Linked DNA regions of Homo sapiens. The protein of the gene in region 1 purifies or fractionates together with the protein of each later gene. This does not show direct contact. Each region holds a gene or a part of one and is shown in the gene's direction. Other genes may lie near its edges. The genes, in order: FAM98B and EGLN1.

Evidence for each region.
Region 2: the proteins of FAM98B (region 1) and EGLN1 fractionate together in Homo sapiens (co-fractionation; one large-scale study listed by BioGRID). This does not show direct contact.

Annotation. Positions count from the first base shown.
Region 1 is NC_000015.10:38,460,487-38,464,314, forward strand, and holds part of FAM98B (protein FAM98B), read left to right. Parts: intron 1-3,545; coding exon 3,546-3,691; intron 3,692-3,828. UniProt on the Homo sapiens protein: Positively stimulates PRMT1-induced protein arginine dimethylated arginine methylation.
Region 2 is NC_000001.11:231,366,574-231,370,401, reverse strand, and holds part of EGLN1 (egl nine homolog 1), read left to right. Parts: intron 1-558; exon of another isoform or gene 559-848; intron 849-2,765; coding exon 2,766-2,833; exon of another isoform or gene 2,834-2,835; intron 2,836-3,828. UniProt on the Homo sapiens protein: Cellular oxygen sensor that catalyzes, under normoxic conditions, the post-translational formation of 4-hydroxyproline in hypoxia-inducible factor (HIF) alpha proteins.

The DNA of each region.
Region 1 (3,828 bases):
CACCTGGGGAGTAGAAATGCAGAATCCCAGACATCATTCCAGCTCTACTGAATTAGAATCTTTATTTTAACAAGACCCTCAGGAGATTCATATGCACATAAAAGTTTAAGAAGTACTGTTCTAGCCAGAAAAGTGCTTTCATATTCTTATTCGGTTATCTAGCAGAATATACTTAGACACTTCTATTGCCTAAGACAATTAGATACATTTCTGGATGGTGACAGAACAATACAGGCTAAGAGTGTGGGGCTATGGAGGTAGGTTGTGTGGCTCAGTTCCGGGACAGTTGTTAGCTATGATTATGGCCATCCCGGATGAATTATTTACCTTTATCATCCTGAGCTTCCTCATCTGTAAAATGAAGCTAATAATAGTATCTACCTTATAGGGTATTGTGGCAACTAAATGAGACAATTTATATAAATTGTTTAGCACTGACCCAACATACAGTTAGCACTTTCTAAATGTTAGCCACTATTGCGATTTTGATTGTTACTAGATGGTCAGGTATGTTAAATGCATTTATTTGTTCCTCTTTTTATTTTTACTTCATCTGATGAGCTAAGGCATTAAAGATTGGATTTTTTTTTCCAAATTCAGAATTTTTTGTGATTTGATCAGTTCTTGTTGGTTTTTATTATTGACATTTCAGTTAAAAAAACTTACATCAATATGAATTAAATTTCTTCAAGAGTTTATGAGTATTGCTTTATTGCAGAAATGAAAGCAAATAAGAGGATATAAGATGTTTACTATGAAATCTCATTGAGAGGCATTGTAAGACATAGAGGAAGGCTGAGTCATAGAAGAACCAGCCTTGAGCTGGGGGGTGCAGAAATAATATTCTAGTCTCAGCTCTGCCTTTACTTGGCTGTATCAACTGGACCAGATTATTTCCTTAGTTTCCTTATAGTTGTAGACAGAGGTCTAACAAGACCTATGTTAATGATGGAGCATTTGGGTTAAACGTGGATTTAAATCCTAGTGCCATTTTCTGATTCTACAGAATTAGGATAATGCTAACTTAAAGCATTGCTGTAAAGATTAAATGAAATATATATATATATATATGCCTAGCACTGTGCCTGGCCTGCTACATAAAGGCAGGTTTCCTAATGTCATGAAGTCTTAGTTTCTTTACCTACAAAATGAGGATTTGAAAATACTTGTACTTACCCTTCATCTGATATAACCAGAGAATTCAAAGAAAAAGAAATGCAAGTGGCCTTTAAACATATGCAAAGATACCCTACGTCTTGCTTGTAAGAGAAATGTAGATAAAACTATACTGAGTTACCAGATGGTCAAAAATCCAAAAGTTTGACAACTTTGATGAATTATGAGGGAATGGGTACTCGGATACCTTGATGGTACAACCCCTCTACAGGAGAATTTAATAGTATCTGGCAAAGTTATGTATCTATTTACCCTTTGACCCAACAGTCTCACCTCTAGGAATCTATCCTAGATAAAAACTGACAAAAATTTGCCAAACTATATTAACAAAACACTGGAAACAATCCAAGTGTCCTTTAGTAGATGCCGATTAAATAAAATATGGTGCATCCAGACAGTGAGGTAGTATATAACTGTAAAAATGGTTGAATACTATGTCTAAATATTGATCTCTACTCTATGTAAATGTATGTGTGTGTGAGCATGTATGTGTTTAAAGCAAGGACTAGAACAGTACATAGTAGGCTACCTTTTATCTGGAAAAGGAGACAAAAATGCATATATTTATACTGAAAAACATGATGGAAGGACAACCCCAAACTAATAAATATGGTCACCTGTAGGGGAGGGAGAGAACAGAGTAGAGGATACAAGATTAAAATTGCAAACTAGATTTTTCTGATGCATTTTGTTTTTTAAGTTAGACTTTGAAACTGCATTAATGTTTTACATAATTATAAGACAAAAATGAAATAAAAAGAAACAAATCCCTACAAATTAAAGCTGAACAAAACAAATGTCTATTGATATATTGAGTAGGTGGTTTAATCACATGGGAATTGTTTTTCTGTATATCCTTACAGGAATACGTCGTAAATATAAAAAAATTAAACTGTAATTTTATTGTTAGTAGTAATGCTGGATTTCCTATTCTGAAGCCATAAGTAATTTATACCTATTTTAATATATATTAGGAATTTGTAAATGTTATTAAAACAAGAATTGTCATTGTAAGAGAAGATAAATAAAAATGTAAAACAAAATAAGTAAAACCCCTACAATTCTAAATTCCAGTTGGAAATAGCAATATGAAACTGATATAGTTTCTCTGAAAAAGGCATAGAAACAGTGACCAACCTTTGGTAGCAGATTATGTACTCTAAATACCATTAAAAGAATCGGGGCTCCTTGGAGAAATGCCTGATTCCAAGTCTAAGGCAGGAAGATGTTGTTGTAGAAAGCAAGGAAAGTATTCAGAGAGTACGGAGGACAAGACAAAGGGCTCGACTGGCCTACCTGAATGGGCTACTATAAACCAGAGACAGAAGAATTTGAGTATCAAAAGAATAACTGTGATGGATTAAAACACATCAAGTATATTATCTGTGACTTTATAATGTTAACAAAAGTTCAGTTGCAAAAAGAACCATAAAAGTAGAAAACTGATCATCTAATTCAGTTAAGATAGTATATAAAGTGTTTTGAAAATTTAAGATTCTTGTGAAATACAATTTGCAGAAATGTTTAGAAGTGTAAAATTATAAATAAATGAGGCCAGGCACGGTGGCTCACACCTGTAATCCCAGTACTTTGGGAGGCCGAGGTGGGTGGATTGCTTGAGCTCAGGAGACCAGCCTGGCCAACATGGCTAAACCCCCTTTCTACTAAAAATACAAACATTAGCTGGGTGTGGTGGCAGGCACCTGTAATCCTAGCTACTCTGGTGGCTGAGGCATGAGAATCCCTTGAACCCAGGAGGTGGAGGTTGCAGTGAGCCAAGATTGTGTCACTATACTCCTGCCAGGGTGACAGAGTGAGACCCTGCCTCAAAAATAAAATAAAATAAAATAAAATAAAATAAAATAAAATAAAATAGTAAAGTAAAATAAATAAAATAGGTTTAGATTAAAATGATCTAATAGATTCTTTTCAACTTTAGCTTTTTTAAATTTGTAATTTGTGTCTGTGCTTTTTTCACCATATTTTTATTGTAATTAATATAAGGCTATTAGACTTTATGCTGTATTTGACTTTGTGATACCTGTGGTATTTATCTGAAAATTGGTAGATAATTTTACTGTAAAATGTTAAAACATAGGAAAAAAGCCAAATGTTAATTATATAGAGCAGGAATCAGCAAACCATTTCTTTAGAAGGCCATGTAGTCATCATTTTCGGTTACAAATACTTAGCTCTTCCATTGTAGTGTGGAAACAGCCGTAGCCAATTTGTAGATTAATACATTTAATGGCTGTGTTCCAATAACATTTTATTTACAAAAACAAGCAGCAGACCTTGACACAGAGTGTTGGAGGTTTTTTTGTTTGATTGGCTTATTTAGTTTTTAACTTGTATTTCTTCCTTTCTAGGTATAAAGGACCATTGTTAGAAGAGCAAGCCCTTACAAAGGCGGCAGAGGGTGGATTATCTTCACCTGAATTTTCAGAGCTCTGTATTTGGTTAGGCTCTCAAATAAAATCATTATGCAACTTGGAAGAAAGTATCACGTCTGCTGGTATTGCCATTATGTTGTATTTACTTTTCTGTTTAATAGTAAACTGATAACTTACGGTTTATAGTTTTATCAATAATGTGCCCACTGTACAAAGAAAAATCACATATTCCAAAGAATTTCAGTATGTGGTAGTAAAC
Region 2 (3,828 bases), on another chromosome or scaffold:
CTGAATTCAAATAATTATATAAGACTCATTAACAGTTAGTACTAAATGTGTCTTTCTTTGCACAGCCACTCTGAAGAAAGGGAAGCACAGGCCTTCCCATCTTTCTAGCACTCTCTCCGTGCTTTGTGCATCTCTTAACTACTATCCATGCTTTGATTTTTGTAAGAGTATTTTACTTGGGAGAGAGAAAGATCAAGAAGGAAAAGGGTTTTTTAAAAGGTGGTGAGGGACAACATAGGAAAATGGATACAGAGTAGAAAAATCAGAGGTAACCAGAGAGTAGAAGTGAAGAGAAAAACAGAAGAAAGAAAAGTAGAGAACAGGTTACCATGTGTGGGAGTTAATGTTAGAAAAATGATCCTATTAGCTTTACAAATAATGAGCATCTGTTTCATTATACTTTTTCTACAAGGTATTTGCAACCTATTATATTTAGTGCTTTATTTCAAATGCTTTTTTAAAAACCATTTATCCTGACTCAATTAAAATGCTCTGGCTGTGAAAACAAGATATTGTAGACATTATCATGAAAGTAAATATTTGTAGAAAAATAGCACATTAAAAAAAAATACTTATTTTTTATTATGGAAAGGTCTTGGAACATTCTGATAGTGAGCTTCCGGCATTCATTTGCTGTATCTGGCTTAGGAGATGCTAGGGTGGCAAGAAGAGGCACAGGCTTAGATGCGCTGGGTGGAGAGTTGGCTTTAGTAATGATGGTTGACTCTAACGACTTGATTATCAGCTGTGCCTTTTTTCTTCCTGCCTTCTGAGGTGTGTTGCCTGCATCCTAATTCACGTACTGAGTAGCAAGCTAAGCAGGTTGTAGCTGGAGATTGTAAGAAATCCTGAATGGAAACCAAAGAAAGACTGTCACATCACATGATGTGCCCTTTTCAATCCCATGTCTCTTCCCAGTGGCATCCCAGTGCTGTCTCTGCCCCCTGCTGCTTCTGTAAAGATTTTCTGACACAGTAACTGCCTCATAGACCTTCCTTTTTATGAAATCCTGAGTTTGGTTTGGTTACGTCCTTTTTAGATGAATAAATAACAGATACTTGGGAGTTTATAGTAAATAAATGCCAGATGGCATGGAGGCTAAGTGCTACAGGAGTTGAGGAACGAAGGTGGTGCTACATTGGAGAGACGGGCAAGTGCGCTTTGAAGGGAGAGGCTCAGCTGGCCTAGGTGAGGAGAGGCAAGGGGTGCAGTCGTGTTAGTAAAGTTCTGGGGGAAAAGGCGTAGTTGTTCAAGTTAAGGCATGGAAAATCATGCGACGAAAAGGATTCTTGAAGTAGAATCCTATTCTGATCTTATCTAGAATGGGTGATAAGGCTGGAAAGTTAGAATGACATAAGGTAAGTTGTTGATCCAGATATTAGAATTCTGATTGCTAAGTGACTAAAAGTTTAGGGCATGGGCAAAAGATACATAAAATTATGTATCTGAGCCCTTTCCTATTTCCAAGGCCACCCAAAAGTAGAAGAAGCCACATGGTAAGAAAGGTAGTGGAACTCTGGAAAGAGCAGAGTCTGGTCTGGAAGTCAGGAGACCTCCTTAGACCTCAGCTCTGTGATTCACCAGTGGTGGGGTCTGTAAACGTCAGGCTCCCAGTTGTCCAAACTCCCAGACTCTTTACTTCAAAATACATTATGTGATTTTTCATTCTGTCATATTACTGGCTGTATGTCTGATAAATGTTGCCTTTTCCCCTGTGTCCACTGGCCACAATCCACAATATATTTGAACTAATTGCTATATTCTGCCCAGGAACTGGTGATTTGTAGCGTACTTTCACTTCCTATAGCGTTTATACATTTTCCCCATTATTTGTATCAGAAAGTATGTCTTTTGTAGTATTTAATAAACTAGAGATGCCTCACTTATTGGTGGAATGAAATATTCTAAGTCAGATTTTCAGAAAAATGAAGTTTAGACAAAGTTTAAACACAAAACACAGTATAATTGCTTTGATTAAAATCCTTAAAAATTCTTAGCATAATTTAACTGTCAAGGTTATAATTGTAAACATCCATCATTACTCTTTGCTATAATGTAGTGATGTCCCCAGAGACTGTTGAAACTGTTAGCCTGCAATGCCCTGAGTCCTTTTATCTGTTTCTTTTCTGTTCTTTTAGTACTTGTGCTATTGATAATGTGCTTTTTCTGTAACAGCCATTCTTTTACCCTTTTATTGTCTCTCTTTTTTTTTAGAGGGAGGCTCACTCTGTCACCTAGGCTGGAGTGCAGTGGCATGATCTCGGCTCACTGCAACCTCCGCCTCCCCGGGTTCAAGCGATTCTCCTGCCTCTCAGCCTCCTGAGTAGCTAGGGCTACAGGCATGTGCCACCATGCACGGCTAATTTTTTTTTTCTTTTTTTTAGTAGAGATGGGGTTTCACCCTATTGGCCAGGTTGGTCTCGAAGTCCTGACTTCATGATCCACCCACTTCGGCCTCCCGAAGTGCTGGGATTACAGGCGTGAGCCACTGTGCCCGGCCTATTGTCTCTTTCTGATCTGCAGTTCCCTTGCAAAAAATAAGTAGTTGAAATAAGTATTAAGAAAGTCACAAAAACTCATCAACTTCAGACATCAATTTTAGTCTCCCCTGGTTACTGTATAAATAAGCTGTTAAATTTATCCTTTGATATCATTCCAGTTTAGGCATAATTTTGGCATTACAAGTTTTAATATACCATTGCAGCAAAATACCACTTTTTCCCCGCAGTGTGATCATTCTTATCCTATTCTAAATTTTCTTTTAGGTACGCAATAACTGTTTGGTATTTTGATGCAGATGAGAGAGCACGAGCTAAAGTAAAATATCTAACAGGTAAACGTCATTTGGGGCCAGGATATATTGGTACAGAAATACCCTGCAATCAGGTGATGCTTTCAGGAAACTCAAGCATAGTCTTTGTTAACACCATGAATACTTACTTTTTGTTTTTTATCAGATTTCTTATTTGCCTCATTTTTTAAGAAGACATAAGTCATCTTCACTGTTATCTTTAACCAAAAAAATTGTCAAAGGATGTGGAAAATTTGAGGCAAAGAAGTCTGAGTAAATTATTCACATACAAACTGAGTTTTCTGTGATTATCCTTTTCAGTCAAAGGCCACTTAACTCTAGGTAACGGCCATATGGTTTCCTCTCATTCACTCCTTAAATTAATACCCTTTCCTTTTCAAATGGATGTGCTCTAAACAGTACTCTAGGTCTTCCATGTTAAATGTAGACATGAAGAAAATTAATACAAAGAATTATGAATTCAAATGCCAAAATCAGTAAATGACACAGACATGTAGATTCCATATCTGCTAATGGTGTACATAGGTCAGCACTCTTGTACTGAACCTGAAGATCCTTTAATTATGCCAGTTCCCCTTCTCTTCCACTTATGGACTGCCTCTCCAAGAGCAGGGGGTCTGTTTCCCATCTGATGGACCACTTACCTTCTTTTCTTTAACTCTACTTTCTATCTCCAAAAATCCACTGAGTATTCACATTACTGATTAGCTGTGTTTTCCAGAGCCATTGCTAATCGCACGTCGACCTTACATAAAAATGGAATATTCATGCATTTTCTATGTATTTTTAAAGCCATTATTTGTGGCACAAGCTCAGTGTGCTTTCAGAGACACTGAACACTCTGTTGAAGAAACTCAAATGGCTTTTAAAATAAAAAGACAAAATCATTATCTCTGTGTAGAGGATGGTTTTATCCTTGAAGGTTTACTATTTGAAACCTCATCACAATAGAATGCTGAGGGAAGTTTTTGGAAGTACAAGCGTGATAGTTCTCAGATGATGTTTGCAAAGTTGAA